2 separate regions of the Homo sapiens genome follow, and region 2 is linked to region 1. Evidence: fine-mapped expression QTL. A gene starts in region 1. The other region holds a variant in brackets. All regions are shown on one strand. Distances are from middle to middle.

Region 1 (5,230 bases):
GGAAAATCATCTACTCAAGCCTCAGTAATGGCGGATGCCCCTCCCCTCAACAAGCTCCAGCATCCCAGGTCGACTTCAGACTGCTGTGCTGGCAGCAAGAATTTCAAGCCAGTGGATCTTAGCTTGTTGGGCTCCATGGGGGTGGAATCCCCTGAGCTAGACCACTTGGCTTCCTGGCTTCAGCCCCCATTCCAGGGGAGTGAGCAGTTACGTCTCACTGGCATTCCAGGAGCCACTGAGGTATGAAAGAAACCTTCTGCAGGTATCTCAGTGTCTGCCCAAATGGCCGCCCAGTTTTGTGCTTGAAACCCAGGGCTCTGGTGGCATAGGCACCCAAGGGACTTTCCTGGTCTGTTGTTTGTGAAGACCATGGGAAAAGCATAGTATCTGGGCTGGAATGTACTGTTCCTCACAGCACAGTCCCTCATGGTTTCCCTTGGCTAGGGGAGGGAGTTCCCCAATCCCTTGCGCTCCCTGGGTGAGGTGACGCCCCACCCTGCTTCAGCTCGCCCTCTGTAGGCTGCACCCACTGTCTAACCAGTCCCAATGAGATAAGCTGGGTACCTCAGTCGGAAATGCAGAAATCACCTGCCTTCTGCATTGATCTTGCTGGGAGCTGCATACTGGAGCTGTTCCTATTCAGCCATCTTGCCCAGGTCCCCCGGCATGTTTTTTTTTTTTTTTTTTTAATTGAGATGGAGTCTCGTTTTGCCCAGGCTGGAGTGCAGTGGCATGATATCAGCTCACTGCAACATCTGCCTCCTAGGTTCAAGCAATTCTCCTGCCTCAGCCTCCTGAGTAGCTGGGATTACAGGTGCCTGCCACCACGCCTGGCTAATTTTTTTATTTTTAGTAGAGATGGGGTTTCGCCATGTTGGCCAGGCTGGTCTTGAACGCATGACCCCAAGTGATCTGCCCATCTCAGCCTCCCAAAGTGTTGGGATTACAAGCTTCAGCCACCAAGCCCGGCCTCTACATGGCATTTAAAGGTGAATTTATTATTTTAAAATAGGTTATTTGCAACTACCCCTCTTTCCCACAAAACATCATCTGGTAAGGTGGCTAGACATAAGAACCTAAGTGAATTAGAATTACTTTCTGAAAACTCATTGAAGATCTCTGTGTTAATTGGAGCTATTCAGGTACATGACTAGAATTGGAAATCCCTGGCCTGTTTGAACTTTGAAAGTTCTACATTTTAGAGATGAGAGAGACATGTTTTTATAATGTTCTACATTTCTGACCCTGAGTGCTGATTTGGGTGAATAGACCATTGGCTTTACCCATAGGAACCTGGCTGCCTGAGTCAGCAACATCTGCTCTCTGGAGCCTACTGGGAGGCTGGGGGTGGGGGAGGAAGATGGTCTAGGCCACTGAGTGGGGCAGCAGAGCCTGGGGACTAGGAGTGGTGAAAATCAGCCACATTGAACATATGGGTGTCTTCTCAAGGAAATGTGACATATGCGAGAGAAAATGGAGTCTAGAAGGGATGAGGAAGAGGTGATCAAGGGAGTGAGGGGTTCTTGGAGCCAAGGTTCCCTGATTAAGGCTAGTCAGGGTGGGCCTGCATTTCCCCACCCCAAATGCCCGCAATACTCCTGTAGACAACTCTTAGGAAATTCAGCACTTCATTATACACTGCTTCCACTGGAAAATCCTGCCACGTAAGCAGCTTTGGGTCCCAGCTAGATTGGAGATGATCAGTAAGGAACCCTAATGCTACCAACACAAGACAACTAAGAAAAGTGCAAATATTCATGAAAATCGTTGCCAACTGTTTTGTAATCCTCACCACAATCCTGCAAGGTGGACAGCAGCATCCTCACCACTTTTCAGACAGGTAAACAAAGGCTCAGAAAGGAAACAGTACCTGGTTGGAATCAGCACTGAAGCTTCAGCTACCTGCCTGCAGAGATGTGCTCATCTAGCAGTTTCTAGGAGACTAGGCTGGCGGCAGTGCCTGCTCTGATAAGGGAGGAGGAGGGGAGAGGCTTGCTGTGGTGGCTTGTAGGGGGTGTGTGTGTGTGTGTGTGTGTGTGTGTGTGTGTGTCTATTTGTGGGGTCATTTCCAGGGCTACATGTGAGTTTAAGTGTGTGTATATGGGTTGAGATATGGTGTATATGGATATTTGTCGGTCAGTTCTTGGAAAGTGTGTATATGAGTGTGTGTTGAGTGGGGTTGGGGGGTTAGTCCCTGAGCCGTGTGAATATGTGGATGGGGGCACTCGTGAGGGCAAATGGGCTCGGATTTTGTGCATGATTGTGTGTGTGTGTGTGTGTGTGTGAGCTTGAGATTCCAAGTATGTGGGGGAGGGAGGGGGCGGTGTCGGAGATCAATCCCTGGGCCATGTGTTTATAGTGTGTGTGTCTGCCCAGAAGAGAGTGGGTTACTGGGCTGTGCACGTCTGTGTAGGGTGAGTGTGTGTATGAGGGTGAATGAGTGTGGGAGGTGTCATTCCCTGGTCCGTGTGTAAGAGTGTGACCGCGCACGCCTTCGTGTGTGTCCCGGGTGTGTGGGGTCGGGGCGGTGACGAGGTGAGGGGGACGCCGGCCGAGCCCCGCCCTCCGCTGCAGGTGGGCCGGCCCCGCGGCGGGGCCGGCAGCGCTAGCTGTTCTTGGCTCGCGGCCGCGCCGGGCTCGCAGGGCTGGGCTCGGGCTGCGGGGCGGCGCCGGGACAGGAAGCGGAAAGCAGCAGTGCAGCGGCGGCGGCGGCGGGGCTCTGCCTCTCCAGGAGCCCAGCGCAGGCCGCAGAGCCGGGGCCGCTGTGAGCCGAGACCGCGGGCCGCGGAGCTCGGGCGGCCGGCGCGGAGGTGAGTCCCGCGAGAGGCCGAGCGCTGCGCGGCGGCGGTCCCCGGGGCAGACCGTTGGCTGGGAGACGCCCCCACCTCGGACCCCGCGTGCCCCTGCGCCCTCCTCCCGCATTCGCCCCGCCGGACTTCGACCCCGGGTGGCCGGCTCCCGCCTCGGGCCGGGGGCTCCCTCCCCTCCTCCGGAGCGCTCCGGGTAGTGCTTCCTCTGACTCCACTCTTCTCCCCATGCGTTGCGCCCCTCCTGGCCCTGCCGTGCGATCTCCGCCGCACCCCACTCCTTGGGGTCCCGGGGTTCCCTGCTCACACCTCGGACGTCCCTTTCTCCCCGGGCTGGCCTTTGGAGTGCGCCCCTTCGGTGCGCGTGCCGGGGCGGCGGGCAGGCCGGCAGGGAGTGGCCGAGCGTTGGAGGCACCGGGCGGCTGCAGCAGCCGTGCAGGGCGGGAGCCGGGCGCGCACCGGGGTTCCCACCCCTGGCGGGGCTCGACCCGGGCGCCGCCTGGCCCTTCGCCAGGAACCGGGACAGAGCTGGTCTGTGTGCACACCTCGCTCACAAAAAATTGAGCCGGCCCTGGAGGCCTGGGGGGCGAGTCCGGTTGCGCCTCGGAGAGCGCAACAGGCAGGTAGGAGTTTACTTTCAAAAACGCCGGGGTGGAGCAGAGGCGCCTGGCGGGTCTCTGCCCAAGGTGTCCCTGCTGGAGGAAATCTCACCGCGCCGGGGCAGCCTTCGCCACCGGCAGGACCTCATTTCCTTCTGCAGTCTTTGAACTGCCCCAAGCATCGCGCCTAGAGAAGTGTGAAGCTTTATAAAAATTTAAACGCGTCCGTGGTGGCGGCAGCAGTGGGGCGGAGCCGCGGCCTGGCTGCTGTGTGATGAGCAGATGAGACTTGGAGCTGAGGAATCTGTTGCTCAGTTTTCACTTCTCCAAACCAGGTCTAATGCCCACGCTGCGAAGGTGTTGTGAGCTCTCTTAGATTCTCCTTAGGAAGTGTTAGAGCGCCTTATGATGATGATTGTGTAGATGGCCCATGCATTTTGTTAAAACTCTTGACCTGGCTTTGGTTAGAAATGAATGTATTCTTAGACACTTAGTCCAAAAGCTAACAAACTGTAAAAGAATCTGGCATTTTCACTGACATGTTTATAAATTTTACGGGGCTGCTGAAAAATATTATAACTTGTATCACCAGTCAACAATGCTAATTAGCATTCTCCCGTCAGTGGGTGGGTTGAGTACACAGCTCCCAGGCTCTGCAAGTGAGATGGCAGAAATTGTCTGAATACAGGGAGAGGTAATTAGCCATTTTCTGTAACCACTAATTATAGAGTTTTTAGGGTTGAATTAAATCAATGTGATATAGTTGGGGCTTTGATTTGTGGGAGGAAACTGTTTCTTTTTCCAGTTCAAAGAAATAACACGCTTCACCTATCCATGAGCATTAAACATTCCCAAACGTTGATGTCTCTCAGTATAATTAGTGAAAACACTCAGTGTGGAATTTCACTATTAACAATGTTGGCAGTGAGGCTTGCTTGCAACTTAATTTGTAAGTAAAATGGGAGAAGAATTTTGAGAGTGATATATTTGTAAGGACTGCTTGCCAAGCAGTACATTTTTATTGTCTTATGTATTAAGCAACAGGACAAAACCATAAAGGAAATTTAAAGTTTCTTTACCAAGCAACAATTCCATGTCACCCTTTGTTTGAAGGATAAATGTGTTGAATGAAGAAGGCATCCTCCCCTTCATCATCCCCTTAACACACTTATATACACACACTGTGCTTGCTACCCTAGGCCTTATCAGCTATTTTGGTGGGATGGGCCCTTGTCACATTGTGTTTTAATTGGAGGTCTCCACATTGGGGCTGTGAGCTCATTGGGAGTTAGAACTATTTTAGATCCATTTCTTTTCTCCTGAGTGCCCCACGATGCTTGGAACACTGAACCTGTGAGTAGAAGTTGAAATTGCAAAATTCTTAGTGGGGTTATATGTGGTTTGGGACAATTTGTGATTGTTGCTTATACTCCTCTATATAAACAAACAATTCTAGTAATTGCTACAGTGCTGTCAATTTTCTGTAGCTAAGAACACAGGTTCTGGAGTTAGACTCTCAACGTTTAAGCCCTGGCTCCTGTGGCAGTCTGGTTTCCCTAACTAACATGATATTAATGTCTTATTTTTCTTAAACACTTGTTATGCGGATTAAGTGAGATATTACATGTAAGTGACTTAAAACAGCATCTAACACATAGTAAACACTTGACAACTAGAAACTGTTAGACTATTACCATCATCTCTGTAAAATCAGCTAGCTGGTTAGGGTCTCGCTGTATAGGGCATGTGATTTGGGCATCATGCTATTCTATTTTCCTTAAGATGGAAAAGATTAGGTGGGCTTGTGATTGGACCATGTTTCTG
Region 2 (5,230 bases), 32 kb after region 1:
TGGTGCGCTCCTTCCTGCTTACTCAGGAGGAAGGCGAGGCAGTCCAGCATCCTGGGTGGAGTGGAGGTGTTTCGAGTCCATATCTAAATCTTTTTCTTAGAGCACCCTAAGCAGGCTGCTGTCTTTGATCCCCATGCCTCTGCTGTTTATCTTGGTGTGATTCATCACTGTAATTTAAGACGTGGAGAGAGCAAAGTTCCCATCCCAGGCAGGGGAGGCGCAGTGCAGGTTGGACTGTGTAAGGAAATGGCAGCATGGCGAGGTTTGTGCCGCGGCCTACAAGCAGGGCTGCATGCTCCCCAGGCAGACTGTGGCAGAGCCAAGCCCCTCACTTGTAGGGAAGCGTGTCTCCTAGGTGCCCCAGTAGGGGAGGTCTGCCAGCATCGCTGTGCTGTGGGGAAGGCAGCCAGAGGGCTTCATCCATAACTGGCTCAGCTCCTCAGGAGGAGACCAGCAGTGTGTCTCTGCACTCAGAACTGCCACTGGGTCGTGGTGTTAAGCCCAGGAGGGGTGCATATGTTGACAACCTTGTATTGCTTAGTTGCTGAGACCAGAAGATCCAGGTAATTGCATGAGCTATTAGCTACTTCTGGTTCTCACAAACTCCTCCCAGTGTTGATAGAGAATGGTGTCCTCCGGGCATGCTCTGGGTATAGTTTTATTTGTATTATTAGGGACTCATGGAGAAGTGCTCTGGGTGTCCTGCACACTGCACTTTGGAGATCATTCTGTGATTCCCAAGTCCTGCTGATTCCACTTCCTTGGCGCTCTGGGATTAGATATCCTAGGCTGCCAATCTGCATGTTCATCTTTCAGTGGGGATACCCTGCAGGGCTTGTCCACAGCTTGAATTTCAAACCAAAAGCCAGGTACGCTTTCCAGCCTTCCGATATTGGTTCAAAGAATTTGGCTGCCGAAGCTTTTGTGTAGCTGAGGCACCAGCAGGCCCGAGGCACGAGTGAATCCAGGTGGCCCGAGGAAGAGCCTTCCCATGGGCCTCAGCAGCCACACAGAGCCTCTGATCTGTTTCCCTTTGCGGGATGGTCAGTCTCCTGTGTCTCAAGACCTCAAGCAGAAACCTGTGGATCTCCCCCTCTATCTTGAAAGTCCAACCAAGTCCAGGCCTTTGTTGTGCAGTTTAAACCAGACCTGTCAGTAAACATGAGCTAATTCCAGTTTTTGTCCCTCTTTGTCCTTCTCAAGTTCCAAGGTGATCATTGCCTGTTATCTATGGGACTTGTGTAAGCTAACTTCCCAAATGCAGCTGTGAGACAAACATTTTAATTAAAAGGCAGAAGGGCCAGGAGATATAAACACTCATGTGCCTGGTTGTCAGTGAAGGCGGTGGCGTTCAGCGTCCAGGGGCTAATTATATTCTCTTCTCTGGGACTCACACAAATATTGCCACAAATGTACCTGACTGTCAGACTGAAGTCATTTATCTCCAAGTGTGGGGAGCAGTGAAGCCCACACGTCCAGGTAGATTTAGCTCTTACGGACTCTTCTGGGAAGCAGCAGGTGGGTAAAACTGAAAGCATCAGCTATTGCACCCTAGCTGCAGGTTTTCACAGAAAGCTGAATCAACTTGTATTGGGGATTCTGCATTTTAGAGTTCTCTCAAAGACCTAGGTTTGGGCCCTAAAATGCAGCCACCAGAGCAGGCACACCTTAAAAAGTAGGTAATGAGTGGCCTTAGTGCCTGGGCAGCCGTCAGTACTGGCCTCCTTTGGTTGTCCCTGTCCACTGACCCTCCTTCCTCCCGTTCTCTCACGTTTGCATTCATCTGCAGCCTCCATTACCATTGACCAGCTTTGCCGCTTACCTGCCTCCACCCTTCCTTCCCTAAGTTCGAGTAGTTTCCTAAGTAGCTTCCCCTTAGTTTCCTAAGGCTGAAGTAATAGAGTATAGCACAAACTGGATGGCTTAAAAGTTCTCCTTCTCAGAAAGTACAAAATCTAGGTGTTGGCACAGCTGTGCTCCCCGCAAAGCCTCTAGGGAAGAATCCTTCCTTGCCTCTTCCTAGTTTCTGGTGGCTGCTGGCAACCCTTCGTGTTCCTTTATGGCTGTGTCACTCCAGTTTCTGCCCCCATCATTACATGACCTCCTCTCTGTGGGTCTCTGTATGTCCTCTTTTTTTTTTTTTTTTTTTTTTTGAGACAGAGTCTTACTCTTTCGCCCAGGCTGGAGTGCCTTAGTGCGATCTCAGCTCTCTGCAACCTCTGTCTCCCAGGTTCAAGCAATTCTCCTGCCTCAGCCTCCCTAGTAGCTGGGATTACAGATGCATGCCACCACACCCAGCTGCTTTTTGTATTTTTAGTAGAGATGGGGTTTCACTTTGTTGGTCAGGCTGGTCTTGAACTCCTGACCTCAAATGATCTGCCTGTGTCGGCCTCCCAAAGTGCTGGGATTACAGGCATGAGCCAAAGAGGCCTGGCCACCTCTTTTCTTATACGGATACCAGAATGACTCTACCTTAACTAAACATAACATCTGCAAAGACCCTGTGTCCAAATAAGGTCACATTCTGAAGTTCTGGGTAGATGCAAATTTTGGGAGACACTATTTGCCACTACGGGTTTCTCCAAGTTGTGCTGTCCTGTGACTGAACACTGACCCTGTTGCTCTATTGTGGATGTTTGGGAGGATTAACACCAGCCTGTTTCTGCTCACACTGCTTTCTCTGCCTGGAATTTGCTTTACAGCCTGTTGTCCCTGGTGTGACCATCATTCATCTTGTAAGACTTAACAGCCCAGCTTTGCCCCCACTGTGGATTCCTGGCGGAAACACCGTCCCTCTTCTCCTGGTGTACATGTTCTGTCACGGTCTCTGGATCACTTGACTGTACTTATTGTTTGAGTGGTACTCACCACTAATTGGAGCATAAGCCCCTTGAAGGTTTCATTTACATCCGGGTCTCAGTACTAGGGACTTAGCAGGTGCTCATAATTC[G/A]TAACTGCTTTTGATGGAGTTGGAGAGGCTAGTTATTAAGATTTTTCTGAATGTAGCATCCTTAGCTGGCTTTCAGGATAGTGACTGCATGCTCTAAAAGGAGATCTTTGCAGATTTTACTCTATGATGAGAAAACTTTTTAGTACTTTTTCTGTCAGCATGTACCTAGGTAATAAGAAGAATGACGTGACATGTATTTGGGGAATTAGCATACAAGAAGTACTTTGACATTTTCCACGTGTGAAGAAAGCTGTTTTTATTGACCTAGCTGAAGGGATCAAATTCATATTTGAAAAGATGTGGCTAAAACTTGAAAAGGACTTGTCCATGGGGGATGTCTTCATCCCTTCTCCCTGCTCAGGGAGAAGTTGCAGGCCATAAAGTGTGAGGGCATCAGCCTGGATGAGCTCTAAAGCTCAATGTTAATTTCGGATTTTAATAACATGTAAGAATACAAGTTTGATTGCAGAAGCCACAATCAAGTTCAAGGGAGGGTGAATGAATGGGAAGTAGAAGGGACCATGTGTACGTCTGTGTGTGTGTGTGCATGTATGCACACATTTTTTTAGGCTTTGGTTCCTTTAGCTATAAAATAAGGGAGTTAAAATGGGGGTGGTTTATGGTCACGATTGTTTCCTTCAAGTATCTAAAAGGCTTTCACCAGCAAGGGGGACTTGGGTTCAGAACAAGGCATTGGGTGAACCAGTGGTAGAACTGAAAGGTCGTTTCAGTGTGAAAGTGAACTTTCTTTTCAAGCAAAGGCTGGATGTCATTTGGGAGCTTGTAAAAAGAATTGTTATATGGCTGCCAGGCGCAATGGCTCACACCTGTAATCCTAGCACTTTGGTAGGCTGAAATGGATGGATCCCTTAAGGCCAGAAGTTTGAGCCAGCCTGAGCAACATGGTGAAACCCCGTCTCTACTAAAATACAAAAAATGAGCCAGGCGTGGTGGCATGTGCCTGTAGTCCCAGCTACTCCGGTAGGCCGAGGCACGAGAATTGCTTGAACCTGGGAAGCAGAGGTTGCAGTTAGCTGAGATTGCACCGCTGCACTCCATCCTGGACGACAAAGGAGACTGTCTCAAAAATAAAAATAAAAATTGGCCAGGTTTGGTGACTCACACCTGTAATCCCAGCACTTTGGGAGGCCAAGGCAGGTGGATCATCTGAGGTCAGGAGTGCAAGACCAGCCTGGCCAACATGGCGAAACCCCATCTCCACTAAAAATCAGCCAGGCATGGTGGCGTGCGCCTGTAATCCCAGCTACTTGGGATTTGAGGCAGGAGAATTGCTCGGACCTGGGAGACAGAGGTTGCAGTGAGCTGAGATACGCCACTGCACTCCAGCTTGGGCGACAGAGCGAGACTCCATCCCTAAATAAATAAAATAATTAAAAAAAACAATTGGTATATGGATTGGGAGATTGGACTGATGGACTCTTGATTTCTCTGATTCTTGAATCTCTGCTTGGGTGAACACTAAGATTCCTTCCATTTCTAAAATTTTGAGGTTCAGTATAAATAGAAATGGGGTCATGCTTTTGTGGCTAGGAGCTGTGTGTATATTCTAGCCACCAACCAACCCCATCACCGCTGCAAAATGTTCATGCTTATTATTAGTAATGCGATAATTTTTTGTGTTTGTACAATGCATTATAGTTTATAAATGCCTTCACTGTCATTATTTCATTTGCTCTTCTCAACAACCACATGCAGTGGTTGGTGTTATCTCTTTATCAAAAGCCAAGAAAAAGGCCAAGAAGGGGGAAATGACTTATACAGGATTACAGGGTAGGTAGCAGGAATCTAGACCTTCTGGAATCTAGTACTCCTACAATGGATGCCTCCCTATAGGTAGGTTTGATTTTCAGGAGGCTGAGAGTTGGCAGGAAGTACTGCATAAAAACAAAGAGTAGCATAACTTTGTGGCCCCAGTCCCTAAGGAAAACTGTGCAGAGTGGACCCATCTTGGCTCATTTCCCATGGCAGTACCCTCATGGTGGGCCTCTGGAGGAGGTTGGTACAGGCGCACCTGGGATCAAGTTGGCCGCTTCAACATATATGGCCATATAAGCTCGTGGTGGCTATCGTTTATGAATTATTTACTTTGAATAACCACTTTAAAATGTGTTATTTCATCTTCAGCACAGACCTAAACCAGGCAGGCTACTCCTCTTTAGGAAGCAGGAAAGTGGTGGGTGAACTCCCAAGTCTCCAGTATTTTTCCTGGTATAAATGCCAACTAGCTTTGAAGTCTCATAATGTCATAGAACTTGGAAT

Which allele goes with the higher level. Alleles are on the strand shown, and positions count from the first base shown. SD is a standard deviation of normalised expression in the study named.
With allele A in place of G in region 2, the expression in ileum of the gene that starts at base 2,694 in region 1 is lower (small effect, 0.27 SD a copy in GTEx).

What was found. PIP is the estimated chance that this variant, and not a neighbour inherited with it, causes the effect. A credible set is the group of variants that fine-mapping cannot tell apart.
Region 2: its variant is the best candidate, but not a certain one, in a credible set for the expression of VANGL1 in ileum (GTEx, PIP 0.66).

Annotation. Positions count from the first base shown.
Region 1 is chr1:115,639,277-115,644,506 of GRCh38, forward strand. It overlaps VANGL1 (VANGL planar cell polarity protein 1), which reads left to right and starts at 2,694. Exons shown (of 8, transcript NM_138959.3): 1 at 2,694-2,810. RefSeq lists a silencer at 2,426-3,415 and an enhancer at 2,551-3,309.
Region 2 is chr1:115,671,465-115,676,694 of GRCh38, forward strand. All of the region lies in intron 4 of VANGL1 (VANGL planar cell polarity protein 1), which reads left to right. Among named protein-coding and RNA genes, the nearest start is that of VANGL1, 32 kb to the left of the region's middle. RefSeq lists an enhancer at 1-476. The variant G/A (reference allele first, on the strand shown) is at 2,951.